Linked DNA regions of Homo sapiens. The protein of the gene in region 3 purifies or fractionates together with the protein of the main gene of each other region. This does not show direct contact. Each region holds a gene or a part of one and is shown on either strand. Other genes may lie near its edges. The genes, in order: ESRP2, MSI2, PITRM1, NID2, DERA, REXO2 and NFU1.

Evidence for each region.
Region 1: the proteins of PITRM1 (region 3) and ESRP2 fractionate together in Homo sapiens (co-fractionation; one large-scale study listed by BioGRID). This does not show direct contact.
Region 2: the proteins of PITRM1 (region 3) and MSI2 fractionate together in Homo sapiens (co-fractionation; one large-scale study listed by BioGRID). This does not show direct contact.
Region 4: the proteins of PITRM1 (region 3) and NID2 purify together in Homo sapiens (affinity purification with mass spectrometry; one large-scale study listed by BioGRID and IntAct). This does not show direct contact.
Region 5: the proteins of PITRM1 (region 3) and DERA fractionate together in Homo sapiens (co-fractionation; one large-scale study listed by BioGRID). This does not show direct contact.
Region 6: the proteins of PITRM1 (region 3) and REXO2 fractionate together in Homo sapiens (co-fractionation; one large-scale study listed by BioGRID). This does not show direct contact.
Region 7: the proteins of PITRM1 (region 3) and NFU1 fractionate together in Homo sapiens (co-fractionation; one large-scale study listed by BioGRID). This does not show direct contact.

The regions. Positions count from the first base shown.
Region 1 is NC_000016.10:68,233,115-68,237,962, forward strand, and holds the start of ESRP2 (epithelial splicing regulatory protein 2), read right to left. Parts: upstream 3,014-4,848; 5' UTR 2,932-3,013; coding exon 2,734-2,931; intron 2,649-2,733; coding exon 2,520-2,648; intron 2,509-2,519; exon of another isoform or gene 2,067-2,508; intron 994-2,066; coding exon 880-993; intron 769-879; coding exon 654-768; intron 386-653; exon of another isoform or gene 312-385; coding exon 213-311; intron 1-212. UniProt on the Homo sapiens protein: mRNA splicing factor that regulates the formation of epithelial cell-specific isoforms. Specifically regulates the expression of FGFR2-IIIb, an epithelial cell-specific isoform of FGFR2.
Region 2 is NC_000017.11:57,678,879-57,682,387, reverse strand, and holds part of MSI2 (RNA-binding protein Musashi homolog 2), read right to left. Parts: intron 2,840-3,509; coding exon of another isoform or gene 2,798-2,839; 3' UTR 1-2,797.
Region 3 is NC_000010.11:3,162,353-3,166,528, reverse strand, and holds part of PITRM1 (presequence protease, mitochondrial isoform 2 precursor), read left to right. Parts: intron 1-148; coding exon 149-300; intron 301-1,001; coding exon 1,002-1,116; intron 1,117-1,194; coding exon 1,195-1,291; intron 1,292-2,643; coding exon 2,644-2,804; intron 2,805-4,176. UniProt on the Homo sapiens protein: Metalloendopeptidase of the mitochondrial matrix that functions in peptide cleavage and degradation rather than in protein processing. Has an ATP-independent activity. Specifically cleaves peptides in the range of 5 to 65 residues.
Region 4 is NC_000014.9:52,037,889-52,042,064, forward strand, and holds part of NID2 (nidogen-2 precursor), read right to left. Parts: intron 2,964-4,176; coding exon 2,763-2,963; intron 1,090-2,762; coding exon 859-1,089; intron 1-858.
Region 5 is NC_000012.12:15,980,614-15,984,789, reverse strand, and holds part of DERA (deoxyribose-phosphate aldolase), read right to left. Parts: intron 2,483-4,176; coding exon 2,354-2,482; intron 1-2,353. UniProt on the Homo sapiens protein: Catalyzes a reversible aldol reaction between acetaldehyde and D-glyceraldehyde 3-phosphate to generate 2-deoxy-D-ribose 5-phosphate. Participates in stress granule (SG) assembly.
Region 6 is NC_000011.10:114,445,476-114,449,651, reverse strand, and holds part of REXO2 (oligoribonuclease, mitochondrial precursor), read right to left. Parts: intron 3,674-4,176; coding exon 3,565-3,673; intron 1,827-3,564; coding exon 1,773-1,826; intron 1-1,772. UniProt on the Homo sapiens protein: 3'-to-5'exoribonuclease that preferentially degrades DNA and RNA oligonucleotides composed of only two nucleotides. Binds and degrades longer oligonucleotides with a lower affinity.
Region 7 is NC_000002.12:69,427,043-69,431,218, forward strand, and holds part of NFU1 (NFU1 iron-sulfur cluster scaffold homolog, mitochondrial), read right to left. Parts: intron 1-4,176. UniProt on the Homo sapiens protein: Iron-sulfur cluster scaffold protein which can assemble [4Fe-4S] clusters and deliver them to target proteins.

The DNA.
Region 1 (4,848 bases), on a different chromosome or scaffold from region 3:
CTTGAACCCGGAAAGTGGAGGTTGCAGTGAGCTGAGATTGTGCCACTGCACTCTAGCCTAGGCTACAGAGGGAGACTGTCTCAAAAAAAAAAAAAAAAAAGAAATGACAAAGAGGATTCCCCCGTGGTCTCTTAGAGAAGGTCACAGTGGGGAGGAGCAATAGGCATTTGTCATCCCTGAGAACAGGTGACAGGCAGTGAGGGAAACCTTACTGCTGGGCTCTTTGAGTAGATGGAGGATAACAGCTACCATTGTCTTGACTTCCCAGACCCCAAAGTCATCCTCTGTGGCATCTGTCTCCAGTCCTAAACCTATGGGCAGAGAAGTGACAGTGAAGACATCTTAGCATAAGCACTAATCCTGTTTACTCCTGGGCCCAACTCCCCTCCATAGACACATGCTGGAGACCAGCATACACATTTGTTTTGGCCCAGTTCATGTGTGCACATACAGATTCCCAGTCCAGACATAGACAGACACATACCCACATTCCAAACTCATCCTAGCACAGACACGAAGACACAGTACACTCAGGGACTTAGCAGATAACGCAGTCTTGTATGTGTCCATATTACCCACCCACAGCATGCACATACTCAGACACATGTACCCACAGTGGCTTCTCCACCCTAACCCTGCTGGGTCACAGATACCCTGTGCCATGGTGGCCACAGTGAGGTCCCTGGCAGGGCAGGTGCTTGGATGCTGCATATGGAATTCTCTTCGGAGGTCATAGAAGGAGAAGAACATGTCGGGGAGCACCAGGTTCTGGGGGCACATAGGATTGAGGATGAGCGCCCTGCCCACCCTCAGGACAAGAGGGGTTCTGGGAACCTTACTGACCACCCCACCCCACCCGGTTTTCCTTCAGGAGCATACCTTCCTGGAGGCCTCGGGGTGCAGGACCTGTCGCAATAGCTGCTGCCCATCAGTGCAGAGCATGTAGGGGCCCCCGCCCAGCAAAGCCACATCCCCGTTCACCAGCTGTGAGAACTGGGGATAGGGAATGGGGAGAGAGAAACACACAGATTCACAGCTGGGCAGGCAGGAAGTGAGGGTAGGAGGAAGGAGGCAGGCTGCAAAGCTGGTTCAGCCAGATGTTCAGCCCTATCCTGCCTGGGAATAAGAGGCCACGCCTGTTGAGCCTAGCCCTATGTCCCTTCCCCTCACCCCCCAACCCTGTTCCAGTCCACTGTCACCTCCTCCAGGCCAAATGAGGGCAATCACATATAACCGAAGCCCTCAACACACACACTCCAGGAGTTTGGAGTGGGGCCAGAGCAAACACCTGGAGTGGGACAAGCAGGTGGGAAGGGGCGGGGCAAAGCAGGTTAAACCTGTCTTTGACCGGGTACCACCCTCAGACAGGTGGGGGAGGCCCAGGCCTGCCTGAGGCCCAGAAGGCTCATGGTCAATGGCAGCCCCGCCTCCAGGTCTGACCAACCGAGGGGCAGAGAAACTCCAAGGACAGAGCTCCACACTTGGACATCAGGGGCAGCATGAGCTTTGACCCACATCCTATTGACCGGCTGGCACTGAGCTGTTTGCTCATAGAGGGGGTGGCACTCCTGAGGCTGCCCAGCCCTCCCCCAGCCTCCATCCTTGCTGGAGAAGTATAAACACTAATCAGTGACCCACGAACCCTCCCTGCCAATTCTGTGACACTTTACAACTTGGGGCTGACAGAGCAAGGCAACCCAGCTCTCCTCCAGCAAACTCCCCAAGTGAAGGGCCGGGAGCCCTTCTGGAACAGACAAGGAATCATCATCGTGGTGCCTCCTCATCAGGAACCACAAGAGTTGTTGGAAGATGAAAGAACGTGAGTGTATAAAAAGGACTTACACTAATTACACTCAAGAGTCAGACATAGAATGAGCGCCGTAGTGAAGATAAGGAAAAGAAAACAGCAATGGAAACCACCTCCCACTTCAGCTAGGGCAGGAGGCACCCCAGGCCTTTGCACTCAGCAGGCAGATAGTCCCCCAGGCCAGGCCGGGACAGCGCCCACGCCTGGCCAGCCGGCCGGGACAGGCCTAGACGAGCAGTTTACACCTGGCGGCGTCTACCTCTAGGGCCGACACCGCCCTACGCCTCCGCTCCAGCAGCTCCCAAGCAGGCCGAAGACGCGGGCCGCAAGGACAGGTGACCTATATGGGCCCCTCGACCCCTTTCGCTTCCGGCTGCGGCTCAGGGAGACCTGACCCAGCAGGTCTCCCAAAGGCGTCTCGGCCTCGCTCCCCGGGCGGGAACTGGGGATGGATCCCAAAGCCTGCGTCCCGATCCCTTCGGTAGGAGTAGGTTCCTGCAATGGTTGAAAAGTAAGGAGCCCAGGGGAATGGCTGGCACGCGCGGATGAAAGGGGCACGCACACGCGAGAGTCGCTCAAAGTTTCAAACAAGAGCCCAGTCCTGCCGCCTGGACCGGTTGGTTGCGGCACGCCAGGCCTAGCCTCCGGCCGCCAATCCCGCCCAGAAATGTCCTCACGTCCAGGCCATGCCGCCACCCACCCCGGCGCTCACCTGCTGCAGCACCTTGTCCAGCGGCTCTGCCCGCGCCAGGCTGTCGGCGCTCAGGCCGCTCGCCTCGCGGCACTGCGTACTCAGTGCGGCCGCCTCGGCACGAACCAGCGATTTGTGCAGCGTCCCCACCTGTGAGCGGCGGGGGAAACCGATCAGCCGCGCCCCTCGACCCCGGAAGCTCCCTGGGGACCTCACCGCCTCTTTTCCACCCTACCTGGCGGCTCCGCGGCTCAACCACTTGCCAAACTAGGAGGATTAAGTCGGTCTCGTCCGAGCCCAGGTCCCGTCCCAGCGCACCCGCCGTAGCCCCGAAGAGGACGACCAGTGATCCGGGCCAGGGGCAGGGGTCCGCGGCGGGGTCGGCCGCGGGGTCAGGGCCCGGGGGAGGGGGCGGCGGCGGCGGCGGAGTCATGGCCGCAGAGGAAGGGGGCTCTCGGCCAGACACGCGGACCGACGAGGCGCACGCACGCACCGACCGACCGCAGACGCGGATCAGCTTGGGCGGGACACCGTGTATCGGGGGCGGCACCTGCGGCCCGGCTGGCTCAGTGGGCGCTGCCAAGACCCGCCCGTGGCGCCCCGCGGGGCGGGGCGGCTACCGGCCCACGCCCTCTCCAGGCGAGTTACCTGCCGGCCCCGCCGGCCACGTGACCGGGGCGGCTCCGGGAACCTTGGGGGAGGGCCGCCAGAACTCAACCCAGGACGCAAGAGCTCACGCTCCCGGCCTGGGCGCACGCTTAGGATCCGGATTCCTACTTCCAGGGCTGGTCCTGCCTGATTTTGGGGGCTAACCCATTCTTCCGCTCTCCCCCCACTCTTCCCCAGGGGTCGTCAGGCCTCTGCAAAGGAGCGTGCAAGACAGAGGCCTTCTCCAGTATGGAAGTCACCAGGAGGCAGTCTAGGGGCTGTGGGGGTCAACACGGCAGGTCTGGGGTTGATGGAAGTCAAAGGGTCAAGGGGGCGGTGAGAGTTGCCGGGTATCACCCTGTAGGGGGATCACCAGAAGTCACCTGGGAAAGGGGAGGGCGGCGGGAACATCAGCGTTGTTAGAGCTGTGGGGTGGTCACCAGGGATCACAGGGAAGGGCTTGTCCACGCAGATGCTAGGGCCGAGCGCTAGCCTGGCACTGAGAAGTGCCAGAGCGCGGTCGTTGTGGGTTGGGAGTGGGCAGGCCTCAATGCTGGGGAAAGGAACCCCCCAAATCGCAGAGAGCTGCACCCTAGACGAGGCTGAGAGGGGTAGAACGGGCCTGGAGCCTCACTCCTACCCCACGTGTGGGGGCCTGCCTGCTTTCGTCCCTTTCTGGACGGTGGAGAAGCTGCCTGGAGATTGCGAGCGCTCTGGCCGATGGGGGGCTAGCGTTGAGCGTGTGTGCGCGCATGCGGGCTGCAGATCCTCCCTTTTCCATCCCGCACCTACAACCCAATTGACAGCCCCGCATTTGGGGCTCCCATTCCTCCCTTTGCCCAGTGGAGCTTGGTGAGGCTCCTTTATGGCGCGTTTCCCGGCCGTTCCTTACTTTCCCAAACTCTCCCAGGGAGGTGACTGAGAAACTGAATAAGTGACTGAGAAACTGAATAATCCAGCAGGAAGGAGGGGGCTCCAGCGTGGCGGGAACTGAGTCACGCGGTTGCCTAGCCCGACTCGAGACTGAGACGGGAGCCGCACCACGCGCTTTCGGACAAGGAGGGTGCTGCGGCCCGGCCCCTGGACAATGGAGAGAGCGGGGCACCCGGGCGCATCACCAGAGCTCATGCCCGGGAAAGGGGCGAGGCCCGGGGGGAGAGAGCTCAGCGTAGCTCCACTTGGCAGCTAAAGAAACAGGCGCCCGGGACGGAAATGACTCGCGCCCGGACACGGCGACAGGGAGAGCATGGGAAGTGCTTCCTTCGCCCGGCGGGTTCGAGCGAGTAGCACTTTACTTTCCCTACAGGTGGAGGCGGGCCTTGGTGCGCGGCTGTCCATCTCCGGACCGCCCACCCGGGCACTGGCCCATGCGTCTCCTCCCCCGGAAGCGGTAAGCGAATCAGGCGCGGGGGAAGGGAGAACGTTGCTCCTCGGGCCCCTCCTCCCGATAAGCCTGGAATGTCAAATATTTGTTCGCGGGGCGGGGCGCAACCGCGAGTAACGCTCCTCCCCCTCCCGCCCGGTAGGGCGCCTGCGCTTGGTGGAGGCGGCCCTTCCTCCGGCCACGCCCTTCCAGCCAACTCCCCTAAACCAGTGGCCCTAACCGCCGCATTCCTAAAGCTCCACAGAAGCACGTCGCTTCCTCCTTGGCTCCTGTCTGGGTTCCACTCTTACAGCACAGGGTCACAGCGTCCCCGCCCGA
Region 2 (3,509 bases), on a different chromosome or scaffold from region 3:
CAGTTTTGCATATCTAGCATTAGCATTTAAGGTAGTATGGCACCCCTTCACAGTGGGTGGGGGGGGGGGGATCTACAAAACGCCGTAGAGTCCGCCGGCATTTTAACATGGTGAGACCTTGGGTTAGTTGAAACCACATCAGATCAGCTAAAATAAAATTAAACTTGAAATTGAAAAAAATAATTAAAGGAAAAAACTGCCCCAAAATTATTAGCATTTTTTTTCATAAATAAGAGAAAGTTCTATCCTTACTGGTCCTAAATCTGAATAACTATGTCTAATTTTTTTTAAACCTTAATTATGTTATACCTATCAATATGTACTAGAAGAAAGAGGAGAAAAAAAGTCGCTACACTAGTACCAGGACAGCACGCTTACAAGATAGCCATTTTATACATTATTAACATACAATGATCAACAAAGAGTCTTCTATGAGGTGATGGGGGATGCAGAGAAAAGGAAGGGAAGTACAGTACATCACCAACATGGACAAAATAGGAATTAAATTCCCTCGTCTAAACACTGAATTTCTGGGAATTTACTATTTTTTCTTTCTTTTTTTTTTTTTAAATAAAACTTATGTTTTGTTGTTTTATGACTTGAACAAGTTTTGATATTTTAAAAGCGCTCAGCATTTAATCTGGTTGTTTGGGGGAAAAGAAAAGAAACAAAGAAAGGAAAAAAACAACAAAAAAACCTCACCAAACAACCTAACATTTTATTAGAAAAACAAAGAACATGATTTTTTTTTTAATTAAAAAAAATGTTGTTGCTGTTTCATTAGAATTGAAAACGGGTTTTTTCTTTCTTTCTGAGTTAGCATTTTGGAGTCTTTAGTTTGAAGATGCTTTTGCCCTACCATGTCTGTGAATGTCTACATTAGTCTACTTTGTTAGTAAAATTTATAAAAATAGGAGTGCAGCAGCTCTTTATAATAAATGTCGCATTCAGTGTCTCATACTGGCTGTGCCTTAAGTACCAAATTTATAAACGTAACAATTTAAAAAATATTAATAAAACGTCAATATCACATTTTAAAAAAGAAAAAATATATATCCACACTACAATATGTTTTAATGCCATCTATTGAGTTGTACTTCTATAGTTGCTGTTGCCGACCTATTACCAATATTTAAAAAAAAGTTAAATTAAAAAATATCCTTCATCATAAGTATCTTTCCCCAACCGAGGACCATATATTATAACAGCCAAATGTTAAACATGTGCAAAGAGGAAACTGTCAGTTTTTCCCACCAGTCACAGTGCAGTGATGTTTATACTTTTTATTTTTAAAATTCTGTTTACATCTACAATAAATTAAAAAAAAATTCTTCCATAGCCTCTCTGGTGATACTTGCAGCACTGAGGTATTAAAAAAAATATATATAAACCAAAAGGTTGCTTTCCTAATTTGTAAATAGAAAGTGAATGGAGAAAGGTTGTATTAATGCAGGCTTATCCACTCCTGGCCCATGGGCCCCCAGATGTGGGAGCAGGGTGGGGGGCAGGGGGAGAAGAGAGGCAAAGTGTCCTAGGGACCTTTGGAGGTGCTGAAATGATTGGACAATAGAAAATGATCAAATATTTAAAAATTAAGACTGAAAAAGAATGTCCCCCCCACCCCACCCCCACCCAAGCCAAACAGGTGTGCTTTGAAACTTTAAATATGTTAAATATTAAAATTGTAGCTTTGTTTTTAAAAAACATCTTGGGAAAAGCAGTTTTTCATATTTTAAATAAAAATCTAACTAGACGGTAACATTTGAAGCTGTGCACAGACAAGAGGTTAATAGGCTGGTACAACACTAATACAGTTCTTAGGTCTATCACACAGACAAAGGAGCTAAACAGTGCTCTAACTTGTCCTGGGGTGGTCCTGGCAGCTGGGCGATCTTCATCTCAGTAACTGACTTGGCCAACGTTCCCTTCCCGCCTCCTTCCACAGAGCATCAAACTGCCTGGGACCGACTCCCTCACAAAAATATTTTTGATTCTCTCTTTCTTAATAGTTTCTATGTAGTTAATGGAATTGTATTTACAACATTTCTTTTTTAGAATTCACAATTTCAAAAAACCTTATAATATCACCTCTTTCAACAGAAAAAAAGCACTTATAGAAAAGGAGGACACTCAAAACACTGTCGTCCTTACCTTATTGCCGAAAATAGATAGACTCAGATTAACAAAGAGACATCACAAAAAGAACTGCTAGAAAGTCTGTTAATTAGCTTACTACATCTCACTTCTTCTACAACGCAAAATAGAAAGCTCACGCCCACCTCCCGCCCTGCACTTCACAACTTTGCTTCAGTGTGTGCTAAAGTTCCACCTGAAAATTCATACAGTCTCAGAATTGGTACCAAAATATGGAGAGTCATATTACCATCTCAGCATCCTTTAAAAGTGAGAACAGAACCAAAACAAGCAAAAAAAAATGTTTTAAGAAAAAATAACTCCTTAATATAACAATTATACTATGGTTAGCTTTGAACTAGATATTAAAGCTATGTGACTACTGGACTAAGTCAAAATCACTACCAAATGTGATTCAAAGAGATTTAAAAGGAGAATGGGAAGAGAGGGAGGGAGAGGGAAACCATCAAGAAAAACAAAACAAAACAAAACCGAAATCATGGGTTATATACACATTTAAAAGCTGTTGTCTTATATTACAGCAGATTCGTGAGATGATGAGATGTAGTCAACCCTCGATCCGAAGTGAGCCATCTCTGGTTGGGATGGGGAGTGAGGCTGGTGGGGGTCCAGGTCTGAGGACATCACCTAAACAAAGGGCCACTCAGAAACTTCGCCCAGTCTTGCCTGGACATCCAGGTATGCTCTGCAGGGCAGGGAAGGCCAGGATGTCCAGAAGAAAACATAAAATGGAGGGGAGAGGGGAGGAGAAAGAAGTGTCAGACAAGTATGCGATTTCCTCCACTGTTTTAACTAGAGTTTCAAAGATGGACTTCACTGGACTATTGAATACGCACGAGAATCACCTGGCTAGAAGCTTACTGAGATCACAGGTTGGGAAATCTGACATCTAAACCATACCTGACACTGGGGAGAGGACAAGGCTTCAATTCTTTTGCTGATTTGATATAGTACCATAGGGTTGTTGAGGTAGTGGTGGGAAATGTGCTTACAGGGATTGCAGCCAGGTGGGCAAACTGCCCATTGACCTGAGATACCTTTTTTCTGTTTAAACTTCTGTTTTCAAAGCTAAATGTTAAAAAAACAAACAAACAAACAAAAAAAACCCCACAAACTTGCCTTTATTAGATACCCATCGATAACTTTTAAATGCAAACTTACACTAAAAGATCATATCATATACCAAAAACTAAAGGTCATGACACTAAAAATATACAACAAATAACCGGCTTTGGTTACAGGAAACAAAAACAGGCCCAGGATTCACAGATGTGTTTACTGAGTCTCCCTGAATTGACTGGGAGTAGGGGGCCTGGGCTCCTCTTTTGTGGATGGCGCTGAATGTCAGAGGGTTG
Region 3 (4,176 bases):
GATTTACATTATAGTTGGAAAACCCTGTGCTGGAGGATTGTGGTGTCAGAATGATGATTTCTAGTAGCCTGAGGTGATGATGCATCTGGGAACTGTGTCCGCAGCACTAAGCTGAACCTTTTGCGTTCTGGTCATTCTCCTTCCCTAGCGTGCAGTTCCGTACTACTCCCATGGACAGTACTGGTGTTCCTCACATTCTTGAGCATACCGTCCTTTGTGGGTCTCAGAAATATCCGTGCAGAGACCCTTTCTTCAAAATGTTGAACCGGTCCCTCTCCACGTTCATGAACGCCTTCACAGGTAAGACCAGCATCCTGAACAGAAACTGCTTTTGGGTTTGCCAGGCACACCCACTGGAATTCAGTTAGTTTCTGAGAAGGAATGAGGGGAGTGGGCAATTCATGTTCTAGAAAAATTTTTACCTCTCTCTAGTTGAAGGACATTAGAAATTTAATCCTTCAGGAAAGCCACATGGTAGCGAGATTGTAAAAACTAGCGTTTTAAGAAAACATATGTGAACTTTTCCCAGAAAAGTTCAAAACAATTTTCTCTTGGAGATATCGCTACAATGCCAGAGTTACTACTAATGTTGATGTTTGACTTTTAGTAAGACTGACGATAGTGGATAGGGTGACGATGAACAGTGCATTCTGTGGGGGAGTGACATTGAAGAGCGGGTTAAATCCATGCTGTTACAGAATGAGGTCATCTTTGTAGATGTATGAAAGTCTCTGGAGAAACTTGAGAGAGTTTAGATATTCGCTGAAGAAAGCCCTGGTGCCCGTCGAGTGCAGATCCTGAGACGGGATGGGAAAGCCGGCACTTGGGGTTATGAGCTGGGACAGCTGCTGAGGCCAGGGACCAGAGCATGGGGCCACTGCCCCATCCCAAGAATAGCTACAGCTTACTGTCCTAGGACAAAGGGGGAATGAGTCTTGAGAGTCAATAATTTTAGTAGAAATCTGTTATATTTTACAATTTCACTTTTCATTTGTACCCAGCTAGTGATTATACTCTGTATCCATTTTCCACACAAAATCCCAAGGACTTTCAGAATCTCCTCTCGGTGTATTTGGATGCCACCTTTTTCCCATGTTTACGCGAGCTGGATTTCTGGTATGTCATGAATGATTAACTAGTTGATACAGACTTTAGTATTTGAGTCACTATCAGCTTATAATGATTTGTCCTCAGGCAGGAAGGATGGCGGCTGGAACATGAGAATCCGAGCGACCCCCAGACGCCCTTGGTCTTTAAAGGAGTCGTCTTTAATGAGATGAAGGGAGCGTTTGTAAGTTTTCTTCCTTTTTTATGTTGTGTTCAGCTTACCTTTCCCATGTACAATATCATGATATAGACACATCTGGAAGATTTTATTTAATATTCTCATTATAGGTGATACATTCTTGAATTAGCTGGGGTCAGTGCTGTGAGCAGAAGTCGGGGTAGCAGGGCCAGGCTGCTGTTCTTCCCAGCAGGTCTCAGACCATGTCTGGGGACCCCTGGTATGTGATCTGCAGCAAGTCTGTGAGATAAAAGCTATTTTCATACCACTACCAAGACAGTGTCTTTTCATTCATTCTTGCCCAAGTACACGGTGTACTTTCTAGAGGCTGCATGGCAAGGTGTGTGACACACAGCGAGCTGCATACAGAGCAAATGGGGGAGTCCAGCTTCACCTCTGAGCCAGACGCTACAGAGATTTGCAAAAAAGGCAACACAGCACCACTCTAATCAGTTTTTTACTTTGTTATGAGAAGTATTTTTCAAAAATATTTATATCAACATGTAATGATGGCTTACCTTAATGAATAAGTATTTTTTAAATGTCTCAGCTTTAATTTAGAATATAGAAAAATTATATAAACACACACAGGCACCTACACAGGCAAAAACGCCCACATAATCAAAAGCTGTTTGGGTCCTCATTAAAACGCATTTATGCCTAGTGTTCCATTATTGGCACCCTAAGCTTGTGGGAGTTATTTATGTCCTACAGCTCAAGGTCATCGCCAAGGTCTGATTTTTTACAAAAAAATTGCAACCTCAGGCATAAATGGGTTAATTTTTCAGAGTGTAAAGGATTCTTGAGACCATTTTGGATTAAGAGCTGCTGTCCTGGGCCCATGTCTTCATGTCCCTTTGTGACTTGGACAACCTGTCTGTCCTGGTGTCCCTGAGGCTCATGGGTGGCCTGCTCTCTGATTCCCGTAGCTCCTCTCGGCTGGTGAACTATTTCTTACCTTTTCATTCTCAATTTGGTGGTCTTTTCTTCCAAGGAGTCTTCTTGAACTCAAGTTGGGGTGACAGCTTCTCCCCACTTCCCTCACGGCTGGTGGGCAGACCGACTGATCCATCCCGATTTACAGCCCTCAGCTATGCGTTTGTTGCACCACACATCAAAAAATCCATTGTTCTTCTCAATCCTTGGGTCCTGTGCGTGGGTGATGAATGATTGAATACCGTGTTAAACAATGCCTGCGTGGGTGTTTTTTTTTTTTTTTTAAACCATTAGAACAGCTTTATTTGCAAAGTATTACAGGTGTATGCACCAGAATGTGATCAATTGGCTATATTGTAAGTAATGTAACGTGTGTATTATTTTACATGTATACTTATGATTTATTTATTTTACGTTTCAAGACAGACAATGAGAGGATATTCTCCCAGCACCTTCAGAACAGACTTCTTCCTGACCACACGTACTCAGTGGTCTCCGGGGGTGACCCACTGTGCATCCCGGAGCTTACATGGGAGCAGCTTAAGCAGTTTCATGCCACTCACTATCACCCAAGCAATGCTAGGTAATATTTTGTTGGAAAAGTTTGATGGTGGATTGTGAAAAGTTGACTTGTTTGTGTTCTTAACAGTTTATGGCATGGCTTCTCTCACATTTAGCAATGCTTAAGAAATATCTAAGTCTAGGTAAGATTCTTGGCCTAAGTTTGCCTATCTTACTTGGACATTGATTTTGGACATTTACAATGATAGCCCTCAGGAGGCTCAGCATGGTGGTTACAAACACAGCGTTTAGAGTCCCCCAGAGGAGGGTCCTGGCCCCGCAGCCTGTTGCCTCACATCTAGCTTGGTTGCGTGGAAAGTGGGGGTGCATGGATGGTGCCCACCTTGACACGGGGTGTGAAGCTTGAAGCCCTCTCCTTGGCACGGAGAAGTGCTCTTCCAATAGTGGATGCAGTTACTGAACCTTAATTACATCCTCACTTTCTGATACATTGCTTGTTCTTATGTCACTAATACAAGGTCATTATAATAATAATATAGTCATATATCTTATATAAAACACTAATTGTATTTACATATGAATGCTAATGTAAAAACATATTTGCAAGATTATTTTATGTAAAAATAATTATGAAAACTTGAAGCATACAGAAAAGTAGAGATACTAGAATAATGAGCCCCTAAACACTTATCATGTAATAGATATCCTTTCCCTTGCTGAAGTTTTTGGAAGTAAATTATAGACGTCATGATCATTTGCCCGTAAATGTTTGAATTTGTGACCCTAAAACGTGAGGATTTTTTCTTACATGAGCTAATGCCATTTTCAGTTTTAATAGAATAAAACATACTTTCTTAAAACTGCCTATTTCTTATTCCATATTCAGATTTTCTAGTTGGCCCCAAAGTGTTTGTTGCACGGGGTCCCACAGGTCACACCTGGTCGGCCCGGGTTTCTCCTGGGCACCCTCTAGGGGACGGCAGAGGAGTGTGCAGGCCCAGTTTCTTTCTGGCGCACTCACTTTCCAGGTGGCCTGGCTGTTCCCGCCTGGTGTTGGGTGCCATGTTCCTGTGTTTCCTGAGCACTGGAACTTAGATCCAAAGACTTAGTTTGAGTCAGGCTGTGCCTTTGTAAGCAGAGTCCCTCATGGGGAGCTCTCCATAGACGGCCACATCCTACCATCATGTGAGGTCTGCTCGCCTCCACTGGGGATCTCACACCAGCGGGGTCCATGCTGAGAGTCAGCCACTGCCTTGGGAAGATCTGCTTTTTCCCTTCAGCCACAGACCATCTGGTGGGCTTGAGTTTCTGGTGTCCTGTGATAATGAGTTCCTCATCAACCTATTAATGGTTTTCATATTCATTGAGGATTATTGCCTGAATCAATTACTTTATTAGAGTTTGCGAAGTTTTCTAGTTCTGTAACTTCTTCA
Region 4 (4,176 bases), on a different chromosome or scaffold from region 3:
AACAATTTCTTAATCTTTAGTTTGCTCATTGCTACTATAGAGAAATACAATTTGGTGTACTGATCTTGCATATCTTATAACATTGCGAACTTGTTCTTTAGTTCTAATAGTGTTTTAGTGAATTCCTGAGATTTTCTACACAAAATGTCATCTGAGACTAATTTTACTTTGTCCTTTTCCAATTTAGATGGCTTTTATTTTGTGTTCTTGCCTAATCACCCTGGCTAGAAATTCTAGTACTGAATTGAATAAAAGTGGCAACAGCAGACATCCTTGTCTTGTTCCTAAGCTTCAGGGAAAAGCATCCAGTCTTTCACCATTAAGTATAATGTTCTGGGAATCATGGAGGGGGAGGTTATACATCAAGTTCTATGATGTTTGGTTTTTCCAGATACTAGCTCTTTGCTCCACCTTAGTTTTGGATGAAATTCTTCTCATCTGTTTTAGCTAAAATGTCACTTTCTTGGGGACATCTTTTCTGAATCTTCAAACTAGACTCACAGTGCCCTGCTCTCATCACACTTGTAACAAATACTTGTCAGCATCACTCTCCCTCCTAATTCCAGTCTGCCTTGTTCACAGGTATATTCCTGATTGGCACGCACAGTTGGGTATTGCTATAAACCAGCTTCACATACTATGCTCTATTTCCTGACTTTGGCAGGGACACTGTTCCCTGCCCTAAAACTCTTTTCTGCCTCTGTTTCCAACTCAAGGGCAAGGATCTGCTCTATTCATCCTTATACCTAGCACATAACACAGCATGGCACTAGGTAACCCTTAGTAACCTCTGTGAATCATTCTAACTCTACTTAAAAGGATGTCATTTTTACCCAACAACAAAAAAGGAAACCTTACCTTTGACCGGGCCAATTTGATTGGTCACAGCAAATCTAAGCACTCTTTCTTCGTCATTATACAAGGCAAAGACCCGGTCCACGTTCAGCTGCTGGGTGGTGGGGAAGGACGGGTGTCTGGGGGCGTGCCTGCACACCTGGTAAGTGATGTTCTGGTGGATGCGGTAGGACCATGTTTGGTTGATTGCACCAAAAGTCAGAGAGTAGTCTCTGGAACTTGTAGAGGTCACAGCTGCAACAAACACAGTGGTAATTTTTTAAAAATATTAAATACAGAGATTTTCATGTGAGGTGGATTTTTCTGCAGTTTTTTTCATCTAATTCTTGGAGTGTGTTCCCTTGGGAACCTCCTGAGTTTATATGAAAAAATGTGTAAGGAAATCCCAAAAACCTGAGTGGATGCAAAGCCACAGTGCTGAGAGGGAGAAGGCACTACAATTGTCCATGTTATTATACACAAAGAATAAGTGTTACTAAGGGCCAGCCATGCCAACAGTGCTCTCTACATACTGCCTCATTTATTCCTCACAACAGCCTGGTGAGGTGGGCACTAAATCATGTGATCAGAGGCTCACAAAGGTTAAGTAGCCTAAGATGCAATGCTGCCACATGGTAGAGCTGGAACTGAAACTCACATTGGTTTGACTCTACACCCTAAATTTTAAACCAATCCATCTTCTACATTTCACAGAAGTGACGACTTCCAACACCTCGCACTTCAGTAAATCTGAAGGATTCCAGAGAAGGGAAAGGGTTGTCTCTCACCATCTGAGTCTAGGAGTCAAGCTCAGGTCAGTGATCCGGACACTGACCATTTTGTTCACAGCCCAGGTCTCTGCTTCCCCTTGTCTTCCCTACATCTCCTGCCAGGCTGCCAGCTCTCAGCATAGGAGCAGCAGGGGTCAGAGGAAAGGCACAACTCAATCCGGATTGCTGTGCTGCACAACAGCAGCTGTGATGGAGGCAGCATCCTGTGCGCAGGTAGTACTTTCACAGAACACATCACGCTTCGCACACATTGATCACATAATATAGAAAAAGCATTTTTAGTTCCATGTGAAAGATGAGAAAATACATTCTCAGATATTAAGAGGCCTTTCCCTATAGATATTAAATGGCAAGTCCAGGATATAAATTCTTATCTTTTGACTCCAAATCTAGCATTAGTTTTATAATAAATTATAGCATCTCTGTGTTTTTTGGTTTTGTTTTTGAGATGGAGTCTTGCTTTGTCGCCCAGGCTGGAGTACAATGGCACAATCTCGGCTCACTGCAACCTCCACTTCCCAGGTTCAGATGATTCTCCTGCCTCAGCCTCCCAAGTAGCTGGGATCGCAGGAGCGTGCCACCACACCCTGCTAATTTTTGTATTTTTAGTAGAAACAGGTTTTCACCATGTTGGCCAGGCTGGTCTTGAACTCCTGACCTCAGGTGATCCACCCACCTTGGCCTCCCAAAGTGGTGGGATTACAGGCATGAGCCATTGCACCTGGCCTCTTTCTGTGATTTTTTTTTTTTTTAAAGCAGCCTGAACTCATCAGCTGAAACAAGGTTGAGATAAATATAAATTCCAATAATCACTATTTTTCCATGTTGCAGAAAGTAGGATGGTTAAAAACTGTATATAATTATACCATCCCTACCCACCCCATGGACAATGTTGCTATTGATTTTATTATTTGAAAATACTATGTAGGGATATAGATATTCTTATGTATAGCAGCCATTCTGCTCACTTACACGATATATTTCATGGTAACAATAAGAGTAATAACATAATAGAGCTCATTTTATGTTCCATGCACTGTTCTAAGGACATGCCATGTAAGTCATTTAAGCCTTGTATCTATCTTGTGAGATGGGCATAATCCCCATTTTACAGATGTGAAGACTGGTTATACATACTGGAGTCGGAGTAGTGGTACAGCTCCTTGTAGGGAGAGATGTGGGCTGTGAAATTTGCTGAGACGTAAGGCACCTGGCCTTGAATGTTGGTCTTAATGCTCAGGTAGTTCTCTGGGTCAAGTCCCTCAGCAGTTTGAGTGATACGAACCGTCTCCTCTCCCGGGTAGAATGTAACTTCCATGTCATGGGTAAAGGCAGCACCTGGAGATGAAAAACATTCAGCACAGGGATGAAAAGAGGTCTTGCTTAAACAGTTACCAGTATATACTGCCCGCTCCCAATTTCTACTGCTGTTGGAGATCGTGCCTAAGGAGATTATCTGATATCTGAGAGTAAGCACTATCAGCTGTTGATTCCATAAGTTCCCAAACTTTTCCATTGAAGAATATGGTTTCATCCTGCCTTACCTCACCCAGCTTCTCTTTGAACAAGCTTGTATTCTGTGAGAAATACTCTTGGGAACGTCCTTGACTTTTCTCTAAGGTTGCTAGACTTAGCAAAAAACAAACAAACAAATAAACCTAACAACAAAAAAACAAAAACAAATAAACTACCACCTAAGACATTCAGGGTTTTGTTTGAATTTCAGATAAGTATGTCTCATGAAATATGTGGGTAATACTTATACTAGAAAATTGTTTATCTGAAATACAAATTTATCCAGGTGTGCCATTTTTTATCTACTTTTGACCCAAGGGCTTTATTCAAATTTTGATTAAAGCAAGAACCTATTAACAGCTACCGAGCTCTGCAGTTAAAGATGGAGAAAGAACTTCTCACAAAACTATTTTTAATGCAATAAAGATAAAACCTCTAGCAAACAAGTTTTCAGGTTGGAAGGTGAGAATCCAAAAAGTATCTTCTAAATCCTTGTTGTCAACGGGTGGCCTTTCCAGCAACACTGGTACCTCACCTCCTAGCTTGGTAGAAAAGCAAAATCACGGACCCCACCCCAGGCCTGCTGAACCAGAATTTACATTTTGACAAGACCTCCAAGTGATGTGTGTGCAGGTTCAAGTCTGGGGTGCACCGGCCTATACTATTATAGGTTGTGGAGCTGGGAGGAGAAGAGCACCCCTTCCCCATGAAGTAAAATCATCCCCAGGTGCCCCAAGTACCATTTTTGCATTTGACAGATCTGTGCATAATTTAAAAAGCCTGACAAATATGCTGCAACAAATTGGGGTAAGAGGACACAAATGTTCTGAATGGAATCATCCTGTTTCTCAGAACAGCTGGGAGAACATTTAGACGAAATCACTGCCTTTCAAAAATCAGTGATGTGAGGTCAAACCATTCCCAACAACCTGTGGCCAGAAAACTACACACATGTGGCTCTAGTACATTAAACAAGTGATTCCTCTGTCACTGCGTAAAGGCCTAAAGACAGTGCCCCAAGGAGCACCACTGCCAA
Region 5 (4,176 bases), on a different chromosome or scaffold from region 3:
AGGAAGTATAAACTATAGGCCAGGAAGTATGCTACATGCTTTCATATATTATGCCTCACAAAGATTGTGTCTTTCATTCATGATAAAATCTAGTGTGTGCCTTGGGAAATAGCCATGTTACAAGTGAAAAAGCAATAAATCTGGAGCCAGAAGACCAGAGTGTTCAAATAGTGATACAGGTTATTTATTAGCTTTGTGACCTTAAACAAGTCACACAATCCTAGATTTCTTCCACTCCAGGACTGATGTGAGGACGAAGGAATATTGTTTCAATGTACCTGGTAAAGCACACCATGAATACGGTTTTATTACTCATACTAAGTGCTCAACAAACACTGCTTAAATGAAGAAATGAAGTGGATAAACAACATGAACAGAGAAACAAGCAGACAGGAAGAAATAAAGGGACATGTTTATAATCACATTTTTTTCTGTGGACAGGATGGGTGGAGGGTGGGACACAGCTTCCAAAGCGTGATGACCTAATACCACATTTGTATCATGAGTAGTAGGTGCTGTGCGTAGGACAGGGTTGGCTGACCTCCCAGAATGAATACACTTTCATTGTGACCAGGATAACAGCTGGGGTAACAGGTATCACAAGATTGGCTCCGATGTGACCCTGAGGAGTATCTCAGCTCCATGTGCACAACCAACAGCGTGGCTACCACAAAGTATGTCCTATAAGTGGCTGCTGTTATTCGTTTCCAAACTTTTACTTTGTTACCTGGGCTAACAATCACTTGTGCTGGCAAGCAGCATAAAGGGGGGCTACCTGTACACCAAGTAGCCTCCAAGGGGCTTTTCCCAGGTTCCTAAGAGGCACAGTGAGTCTTCTACTGTGAATCTTTGAAATGCCAACATCACTGATGAACAACTGTTCAAAGTGTTCCATCCCTTCTCATCCTTAGGTTTTTCTGAGATTTTGCTCTCAGATAACAACTGCAGATATTTTCTAGATACAGCAGTTGTGCCCAGAGCAACAGCACCATTGCTGACTAGTAGGCTGATTTTCAGTAGAGTTCCAAGGAATGATCTACTAGGCCTGACAGAGCACTCAAGAAGTACACAAGAATATGGCTGGCCCAGATTCAAGACCAGAGAAACCAGGTATCTTCATCCAAATATAGGGCCCCTAGAAGGACACCTAGAAATTCAACACTCAATCACAATGTCATGTGATAAGTTATATGATAGGGCTTTTACTTGAATGCCGTGGGGACACACAGAGGAGATAATGGGCCAAACAGCAGGGGGAGAAGCAGTGTCAGGGGAAATAATTCCTGAAAAAGGTGGTACCTGTGCTGAACCCCAAGATGTGGAGTTATTTGGGCAAAAGGCATTCCGGGCAGGAGGCACAGAACGTACAAAGACTCAAAAGGTTGGATGGCACCATCTGCAGAGAAGTGCAAGTAACTCTACCTGGCTGGAGAACATGGTGTGAAGGGAAAATGACACAGCAGAGGCACAGCCAGGGTCTTAGGAAGGACCTTTTTAAAATAAGAATCAAGGAATGTACACTTTACCATAAAGATGAAGGGAAACCACTGAAGGAATTTTAAGCAAGCAGTACCATAATAAAATTAGCATTAAAAAAAAATTGTGGTGACAGTGTGGAGAACAGATTGGAGGGGAACAAAAGTCAGGAAGACAGGGGAACAGCTGAAGTAATCCCTGTGGAGGAGGATGGTGGCCTAAGACAGCAGCACTTAGAATGGAGGGAAGATGTGTCAGACACAGCAAAGAGGTCTAGAGAGAACTCTCAAGGCTTCTTCACTGATTTATGTGAGGTGAGAAAAAGAAAGAACCAAGCATGACTCCTAGGCTGCAAGCTTGGATGTCTAAATGGATAGACCTGCTGTTCACAGAGATAAAGAATAAGTCAACTTATATTTGAAAGTATAAAAATCAATGATACTGCACTAAATTTTAAAACATTAACACAAACAAAAGCAGAGGCTGTCTCAGATAGTATGGATATATATCTCTGAGATAAATGAAAAGCTTAAATTCAGAGAGGAGTAAGTCAAAGAAATTCCTGTCTAACATATGTTGATGAGTGAATAATCAAAGAATAAAACAGAAGGCAATTCACTAACAAGAGAGCCATCTACTGCCTTATAAGCATAGTGCAGCAATGAAATGCCACACACACACAAAAAAAAATGTGGAAGAAAGCCAGGAGTTTTTGACCACTTCACATTGAACATGTTTTTACAAAATATCCGATTCCTCCCGCAAAAAAATTCCAAGTGGTTAGCACGTTTAATAATAGCTAAATGCTTTCACTTACTTAATTTCTCCTAAAAACATCAATTCAATAGAAAACATTATTTGAACATAAAACACTTACCTGCCATCATTGCTATCATACTGGCTTTATAGACATTAGTAAGAGTTCCAAGTTCTCCTGTCGCTAATATAGTTTTAAGATGAGCCTCCCCACAGGCCTTGCGAAACTGACGAATCTCATCATACAGGGCTGGGGAAGAAAATAATTGAGGCAGTTACAAAGCAGGCAAGTGATAACATAACTTGGCAGCCGTTTAGAGCTGGTGGAACCCATTTCACATTTAGGAAACATAAAACATTTGTCACTTTCTAAAAATCACCCCAATTTAACATTGCCTGGAGCATTCTGTTGCAGTTCACATCCTGTTACAAGGAATGCTTAGTTTGCTACCATGAAACCGTTTCTAAGCCCTGGCCTGAGGTCCAGAGACATAGAGCTTTTTAAATATCATAATGACATGCAAATTATAAATAATTTCTGTCTTGTCCATATGATGGTTGCTTCCAACAAAAAACAAATGTAGCTACCATACATACAGTGGTGTACCCCTTTGCAAAGTAATAAAAAAAAATCTTAGGTTCTTATTAATTCTTCCATTCACAAGTAATAGGTTCTTTGGTTGGATATAAAGCACACCTTTCTTGAGAGTTATGTTCATGACAATAAAGACACAGCAGCTTGCCCCACTGCCTGCCAGAGTATGTTTATATATCTGACTAAAAAGTGTTAGGCCTGGCCAGGTAGTGCTGGACGCATGTGTACAAAGCCATCTCTGCAGGGAGGCTCAGAGATGCTGCCTTAAATCTGTTAACCCCTGAGCCCATGACCCCAGTACCACATCTGGCTTTGGAGGGTTCCACATTGGGCCCAGATTTATTTCATATTTCATATTCAAGGTAACATTTTACATGAAAGGTAGCAGGATTTTAGTAAGCAAATTAGACCAAAATCATGTGTATTAAATCTTTAAAAAATTATTTAAGTCTTTTGTCAATGATACTAGTGAATTTTGGCTTTTTCAGGCCGGCCACTATCATTTCTTGAACTCAGGCTACTGCCATGGTAACAAGACCAAGGCTTTTTCTTTCCTTTGTATTTGAGTATCTTTCATAGGAAGTAGGTTTTTTTGTTTTTTGTTTTTTGGTTTTTGAGATGGAGTCTTGCTCTGTCACCCAGGCTGGAGTGCAGTGGCGTGATCTCAGCTCACTGCAACCTCCGCCTCTGGGGTTCACGCCATTCTCCTGCCTCAGCCTCCCGAGTAGCTGGGACTACAGGCGCCTGCCACCACGCCTGGGTAACTTTTTGTAGTTTTAGTAGAGACGGGGTTTCACCGTGTTAACCAGGATGGTCTCGATCTCCTGATCTGGTAATCCGCCTGCCTCAGCGTCCCAAAGTGCTGGGATTACAGGTGTGAGCCACGGTGCCCGGCCCATAGGAAGTAGTTTTATAAACATACAGAGTAAACCAAGCAGGAGGGAAACATTCATAATAAGGGTTGGGGTAAGCATTTCTTAAAGCTAAAATGAGAGTTCTATAATTCACAGGCTTAGTAAAGTACATTTAGAAAAATGAAAAATTAGTCTCAGTTAAAACCACAAGTTATAACAGCCAAATAAAGCTTGCCTTCTCAATCACAGAAAACATGAACTTGAAGCTCAGAAGTGAAAAATGAAGAGAAATGAAAGCAAATATTCTATTCCAAGATGCTCAGTAAGTTTAGAAAGTTTGTTACCACTGAGAGATGGTACCCACAGAAGGTTCAATAAAGAACAGACTATTTTCACAGATCCTTAATAACGTGCAGTTCTGAGTACTAGGGATGATCTGAGATGCCACACCACCTACCTTACCCTGCCCATCTACCTAACCTGGGAGAAAATCAT
Region 6 (4,176 bases), on a different chromosome or scaffold from region 3:
AAAAAAATTTGTAAAATATAGAAGATTAAAGTTTCCCAAATTGTTCCAAAAGATGGCGACATGTTCCACAGGGAGAAAAAATAATTCCACGGTCAAATAAGTTTAGAAAAACTAGAGTAAACTTTTTACTGAAATAAAAAGTTGCAAAGCATTTAATATACTAATGTGTATTATGAATTCCCAAAAGGAAGCTGTCCTATATTTCTAATTTATTAATTTTCTAAAATTAATAAATTTTAGTATTTCTAAAACTTAATCGACCACATTTGTAGAATACTTATAAACAGTTCATGGAACACAGTTTGAGAAACATTGCCCAATACTTGATGATGTCCCTCAACAAAACAGACTGACACACTTGAACATAAGTCATGACTCAGTCATCATAATAAACATCAATTATCAAACAGTACCTAACCATACCAGAGGATCTACCTCCTCTCTCATGGTGATTTGTGCTATAATCAGTGGCAGCCTGCCTCCATCTAAGAGCCTTTCTTTTCTTCCAATATGTTGTTTCTCATCTGTTGTATTCTGAGAAATCAGGTAACCAAGATTATTAGAACAGTGTGCAAGTAAATCAATAAACTCTGAATCATGGGCCAAGGGCCACTTCTAGAGAATTCCCTGCACAAATTTTAGTGCAAGAGTTTTATGACAATTATTTGTGTGGCTAAGGCAACCATCTGCTTTCTTTCCAGGACTTGGATATATGTCAGAGCCGAAGCTGCCAAAATTATAGCCTCTGGCTAAATAAAGGCACACAATATCTTATCCACAAAACTGAAATCCAAAACACACCTGAAAACCCACAGTACTTACAGAACCTATTATGTAGCAAAACCTGAGCAATCTTAATGTGAGGCTATTGACAGTCATCATTACTTATGCCATTTGGTGTGAATATACACGTTTCACTGCAGAATACCTATGTGTTTTATTATGGGCTGCTTCTCAAACCTTGTTAGGGATGCTACAAGATAATAAACAATACAGATGTAGTAACACCTTTCTAAAATCTGAAAAATTCTGAAATCAAAACATACCCCAGTTGTGTCAGATAAGGTAGTCTAGGCCTGTATGCCTGTGCTACAGTCTACATACACTCAATAAAATAATGTAAGAATGCCAGACTCTTTAGGGATTGGTCTTTCTCTATTTGCCTATAACTGTGCAAGGTACATCATAGGGGTTCAGTAAATGGTTTAATAAATGCTACCCTTAGAAGCCAGCTGCTAAACCTCCCATCAGGTTTCATGTTTCTCCTGAAAGACTACAAAATCAAAAAGAAAAGAACCAGTACAGGACACATGAATATACAAGATCTTTAAATTCCTTGTCTACTTGTACCTAAGGCTACAGACATAAGAGAAACAATCAGAAAAACTATAACAAGTGTCAAAGTAGGCAACTGTATTATAGAATTGCACACAAAAAGTGTTCTAATTTCAAAAGGCTGCAAGTCCATATCTTCTGTGGGAAGAAAGTTAACACGGTTCATTACTAGAAAGATTACAGATTGTTTCATCATTCCTATAAACCAAGCTATCTAAGAGTTTTGAAACAGCAATAAAGGCTATATAACCCTCTCAGAATGGAACACTGGAATCCTGACCAGAATTCCTAACAGTAAAAGAATGTTATGTTTATGCTAGTTGAACTTTATCTTTTCCCCGAGAAAAAAGAGTTAAGGGACATTATTTCAAGCAGTCAGGAATTTGGGAGTTAAGTGTGTGTCAGACTGGAAAACGCTTGGTAGAACTCAAACTTACCTATGAGAAGCAGCCTTCTTTGGTGCAAATTCATATTCTTCTGGATACCAGCGTCTATACACAGCAGAAATGGAACTCTCAAAGGAAGCTGTCTCAAATATACTGAACAATTACCTCCTTCAAGTAATCCATTAACATTGAAAATGGCATTTGAGTCATGATTCTCAAGTTGCTTCTTTGCCGGGGCCTCTATCTTCTACCCTCTCCTCTCTTTCTTCTATATATTTTCTATGAGCAAGCTCATCAGTGTGTAAGATTGCTAAATCTGGAAATCCAGCCCAGCCCTCCCTAGAGTTTCTGTCATGGATATGCAACTGCCCACTAGATATCTCCATCTAAAAATCTACCAGACACTTCTAATTCAACATACATCAAAACACACCCACCATTGTCAACACCTCCCCTGCCCCATCCACCATATCTACTCTTCTTCTTCTCCTTTTTATTTGAACACTGCCATCATCCACCAAAGCTGCTCAAACTACAAACATCAGAATAACATTATACCTCTTCCTTTTCACACCACCTCATTCGAACACTGAGTGTCTGTCAACTGACCCTCTCACATTTTTATCATACAAGCCCCTCATTTCCATGCCCTGCCCTTTCTCCAGTTCATTCTTCTCCCCAAGATGGCAGAAAAGCCTCCTTTCAGGCCGGGCGCGGTGGCTCACGCCTGTAATCCCAGCACTTTGGGAGGCCGAGGCAGGCGGATCACGAGGTCAGGAGATCGAGACCACGGTGAAACCCCGTCTCTACTAAAAATACAAAAAATTAGCCGGGCGCAGTGGCGGGCGCCTGTAGTCCCAGCTACTCGGGAGGCTGAGGCAGGAGAATGGCGTGAATCCGGAAGGCGGAGCTTGCAGTGAGCGGAGATCGCGCCACAGCACTCCCGCCTGGGCGACAGAACGAGACTCCGTCTCAAAAAAAAAAAAAAAAAAAAAAAGCCTCCTTTCTATCTTTCTACCACTTTTCTTGCCACCTTCGAATCAGAACGATCGTTATCACTCACTCTTCTACCTACACTTTCTCAAAGGAACCCCATTCCTTGCAAGATCATAGTGAACTTCACTGGCATGGTGTGCAAGCTCTTGAGGCCCTAGAACCACCTCCCACCTTCTCCAACCTCATGCTTTGCACTCCAGCATTAATGAATGCTTTGGGATTCATTTAACACATTTTGCCTTAGCTTCCTGCTCCCTCACATTCTTATACTTCTGTCTGCTCTCTCTGAATGCTCTCTCCTCAATAAAATGCCTGCAAGACTTCCACTCTTCTTCACATCTCAATTTCAAAGCTATTTCCTTGCTATGTAAAGGTTTCTCTGACTCCCCATTCCTCTTGCTCCAGCACAGTTAGATGCTGCTTCCCTTGTGACCTCACTAGTCCATACGCACATTTTCACTATAGGAGTCATCATAGAGTATATTTTCAGGGTGCGTTTTTTTACACATATGTCGATCCACTATTTTCTAAAGTACTTAAGAGCTTTTCATCTATATGTTCCCAGTCACAAGACTTCCACATAATATTAGTTAATCCAGAAAATGTATTGAGCACTTATTTTGTGCCAGGCATTGGCTTATTTACTGGGAACATGTCTGACGTTGTTGCTCCCAATTCTCACCAGTCCAGGGTAAGTTAAGGTCCTATACAAGCAAGAATGGGATGAGGAAGATATGAACCCACTTGGTAGCCTTAGTTCTACAGCTCTATCCAATTACTTTCCACAAATTCTCAATTAAAACATGCTAAATGAGGTAATTTAATGGATCCTAAATATAGCCCTTACCTGCACAGTTCTTTAACAGTGCTCACATCAATTATTCTATAATGAAGATGTTTCATGAACTGGGGCATGTATTTGTCAAGAAACTTCTTATCTTCATGAACTGAATTTCCTAGAAAGACACGAAGCATACTGCATCTCTATATTTCTAGTATTATACAACAGGATATCAAAATTCATAAGTTGTATTTGAAATGGAGATGATTTTTTAAAATTCAAACAATTCCTAAAAGCACCTCTATATTTCTAAATCAGGTTTGGGTAAATGTGATTAGCTTACAAGTACAGATTTCCAAGTACTTAGTCAGTTTAGCTCCTTATAAATTTGTAAATGACCTCTCATGAACAGAAGGACAAATCTATCATTCCACATGCTTGATGTAATGCACAAATCTATTTGTTACTTTCTAAGGTCATACCTGATATGCAAACTTTCTCCCAGTGTCACAAAATTCACACCACTAACACTAAAAATTTAACTGAATCACATAGGTAGATAAACCTTTATTTACAATCCAAATTTTTAAACAAATCATATGCATATTTATGTCCCCAAAAAGTAACTTATACTAAAAACACTAAATTTTAAATGAGACCTTTAAAACAGATATCAGC
Region 7 (4,176 bases), on a different chromosome or scaffold from region 3:
GAGAGAGACTAGGTCTCAAAAAAAAAAAAGAAAGAAAGAAAGAAAAGAAAATGAATTTTCTGGCCAGGCGTGGTGGCTCACGCCTATAATCCTAGCACTTTGGGAGGCCAAAGCGGGTGGATCACCTGAGGTCAGGAGTTCCTGACCAGCCTGGCCAACATGGTGAAACCCCGTCTCTACTAAAAATACAAAATTAACCGGGCGTGGTGGCAGGCGCCTGTAATCCCAGCTACTCAGGAGGCTGAGGCAGGAGAATCACTTGAACCTGGGAGGCAGAGGTTGCAGTTAACTGGGATCGCACCATTGCACTCCAGCCTGGGCAAAAAGAGCAAAACTCCATCTCAAAAAAAAATAGAAGGCCAGGCATGGTGGCTCACGCCTGTAATCTCAGCACTTTGGGAGGTAAAGGCAGGTGGATCACAAGGTCAGGAGTTTGAAACCAGCCTAGCCAACATGGTGAAAACCCATCTCTACTATAAACACAAACGTCAGCCAGGCGTGGTAGTGTGCGTCCGTAGTCCCAGCTACTTGGGAGGCTGAGGCAGGAGAATCACTTGAACATGGGAGGCGGAGCTTGCAGTGAGCCAAGAATGTGCCACTGCACTCCAGCCTGGGTGACAGAGTGACACTCAGTCTCAAAAAAAAAAAAAAAAAAAAGGCCAGGTGTGGTGGCTCACACCTGTAATCCCAGCACTTTGGAAGGCCGAGGTGGGCAGATCACCTGAGGTCAGGAGTTCAGGACCAGCCTGGCCAACATGGTGAAACCCCGTCTCTACAGGGGTTTTGTAGAGGTAGGGTTATTTTGTAGAGGTATTTGTAAAAATACAAAAATTAGCCAGGCGTGGTAGTGCGCTCCTGTAATCCCAGCTACTTAGGAGGCTGAGGCAGGACAATCACTTGAACCTGGGAGGTGGAGGCTGCAGTGAACCAAGATTGCGCCATTACAGTCCAGCCTGGGCAACAGAGCAAGACTCTGTCTCAAAAAGAAAAAAGAAAAAAGAAAATGAACCTTCTGAGTAAAAAGAAATCCTCCATCTTACAGCAGTATATTTAAATAGACTGACAATACTATATAACAATTAAAATTTATTCAGTGCCTGGCCGGGCGCAGTGGGTTATGCCTATAATCCCCAGCACTTTGGGAGGCCAAGGCAGGCGGATCACCTGAGGTCAGGAGTTCGAGAACAGCCTGGTCAACATGGTAAAACCCTGTGTCTACTAAAAATACAAAAATTAGCCAGGTGTGGTGATGTGCGCCTGTAATCCCAGCTACCTAGAAGGCTGATGCAGGAGAATTGCTTGAACCCAGGAGAGGGAGGTTGCAGTGAGCCAAGATCCAGCCACCACGCACTCCAGCCTGCGAGACATAGTGAGACTCTGTCTCAAAAAAAAAAAAATTATTCAGTGCCTATCATGCACTGGGCAGGGTGCTAAGCACTTTACATGTATTATATCATTTAATCCTTACATACTTTCAATGAGTACTTTCAATACTTACTATTTTTATCTTATTTTATAATAAGGAGACTAAAGGTCACTCAGCTACTAAGTGACAGAGCCAGGATTCAAAGCTGGACAATTTTCTAGGTGCTGACTTTCTTAGCCACCGTACATATTGCTAATCCTTATCTAACATTGCCAGGCATAATAGGAAAATACATTTAAGATCAATCTTCCTGTCCTAATTTTCACATCACCTATTTTAGGAGAGAGAATAGAATATCAAAAAGCAACAGTTTTATTTTAAATTTGAAAGAGTTTAAATTTGGCAAAACATATGGTTGGTACAAAAATGCTTTTCTTAGTCATTACAGAAAAAGTTCTAATTTGACAACTGAGAGCCATTTTTGTACTTTGCCATGCAGTTCCAGCTAGCTGAAGTTAAACCATTTCATGGATAAAGAAAAAAATTGAAAGTGAACTCCCATACATTTTGTTTAAATCCTTTTTCTAATTAGACAACCAGACAATTCCTAAAAAATGAAAAAATAGCCGCAATGTCCAAGTACTTCATTTAAAATATGTATATTTCTAGTAAGACATTCTTCTGAAAATCTGTGTTATAAGGGAATGATTTTTCAATGACACATTAAAGAAAGGGCTGCCAACACTTTCTGTAAATAATCTTCTAACTCTGGCTCTGAACCAATCATTTCTTGCAGCTTGTATTAATAATTTATTGCTAACCAAAATCTGCACACAGTACTCTACCAATATTTGAAAAATTAAATCTGGCTTCAACTGGGTGCATCAGCTCACACCTATAATCCCAGCACTTTGGGAGGCCAAGGCAGGAGGATCACTTGAGGGCAGAAGTTCGAGACCAGCCTGGGCAACAGAGATCCTGTCTCTACAAAAAAATACAAAAATTGGTCAGCTGTGGTGGCATGTGCCTATAATTCCAGCTACATAGGAGGCTAAGGCAAGAGGACTGCTTGAGCCCAGGCAGTAGAAAATGCAGTGAGCCAAGACAAAAAAAAAAAATCTGGCTTTATTCTACTCAATCAATTTGAGAAAAACTACACCTGCAGAAAGCAAAATTTTTAGAAATCCTTGAGGGTAAAAACTACAAATGCAAAATAAAAAGTCACTTAAGAGCATATACTCTATACTATCTAAAGTAGAAAGTATGAAAATGAATGACATCATCACAGAACTTTTTACTGTTGACAATAAATAAAGCTATTACTAAAAAACTAATTCAGGCTGGGCACGGTGGCTCACGCCTATAATCCCAGCACTTTGGGAGGCTGAGCCAGGCAGGTTACTTGAGCTCTGGAGTTCAAGACCAGCCTAGGTAATGTAGTGAAACCTCGTCTCTACAAAAAATACGAAAATTAGCTGGGTGTGTTGGTACGCACCTGTAGTACCAGCTACTTGGGAGACTGAGGTGGGAGGATGGCTGGAGCCCAGGAGGCGGAGGTTACAGTGAGCCAAGATCACATCACTGCACTTTAGCCTGGGCAACATAGTGAGACCCTGCCTCAAAAACAAACAAAAAAAAACACCTAATTTGAATAGGTACTTAACAAAATCATTACAATTATAATCTCAATTGGGTTTAATTTTGTATTTCAAAAATGACTCCCAGGTCCATCATCCAGAAAGATGCTCATGAAAATGTCATGAGACTTACAACAGGAAACAGGACAGAATGATAAAAAATATTTCTTCCTTTTTTTTTTTTTGAGACAGTGTCTCACTCTGCTGCCCAGGCTGAAGTGCAGTGGCATGATTACAGCTCACTGCAGCCTCAACCTCCTAGGCTCAAGTGATTCTCCCACCTCAGCCTCCTGAGTAGCTGGGACTACAGGCATGCACCACCAAGCCCAGATAATTTTTGTATTTTTTTGTAAAGACAGGGTTTGACCATGTTGCTGAGGCTGGTCTTGAACTTCTTGGGCTCAAGGGATCTGCCCGCCTCAGCCTCTCAAAGTGTTGGGATTATAGGCATGAGCCACCATGCCAGCCTATTTTTTCCTATTATGCTTGGTACTAATAGGTACCTAAGGAGGTAGATGTAAACTCCCCCAAAATACAGATTAGTGGTGCTTAAAGTCAATATCAATGACTAAAATTAATGGGTTTCCTATTTGAAAAGCCTATATGACCACATATTTCAGTCCTACAAAGTTTAAAAGTCCAATTAAAGTGGTTTAATCAGCTGAGTTACTCAGTATTTACAATATTTATATCTAAGCTATTCTGTGATCCAAGCAGTCAGGCAAGCCTGCAGGAAAGTGTTCCTCTTCTGGCCCCTGGCTACAGAAGGGGTAAGGTCTACCCTGATTTAACTCACGCCCTTAGCCAGAATCAGCCAGAGTATGGCCACAGGAATGTGTTCAAGCTAGCAATGGAAAGGAGAGGCTGAATTTATATGCTTACAGCTCCATAACACATATAGGTATACATTTACATACATACACACATGCAGACACACATACCCTCTCCCCTTAAACTTCCCTAACTCTACATTACAGTCATCACACTTCAAATTATTTTAAATCATATCTATTTCCCAAATTAAAGAAAATTAAAGTATATATCTCGTTAACAATCAAGATTATTAACAAAACCATAGTAATTAATTTTGACAAAAAAGCTTTTCTTTCTTTTTTTTGAATGTAGTTTTTTACTACATTCAAAATCCTGTGTTCTAAGGTCTGGATGAAAGCC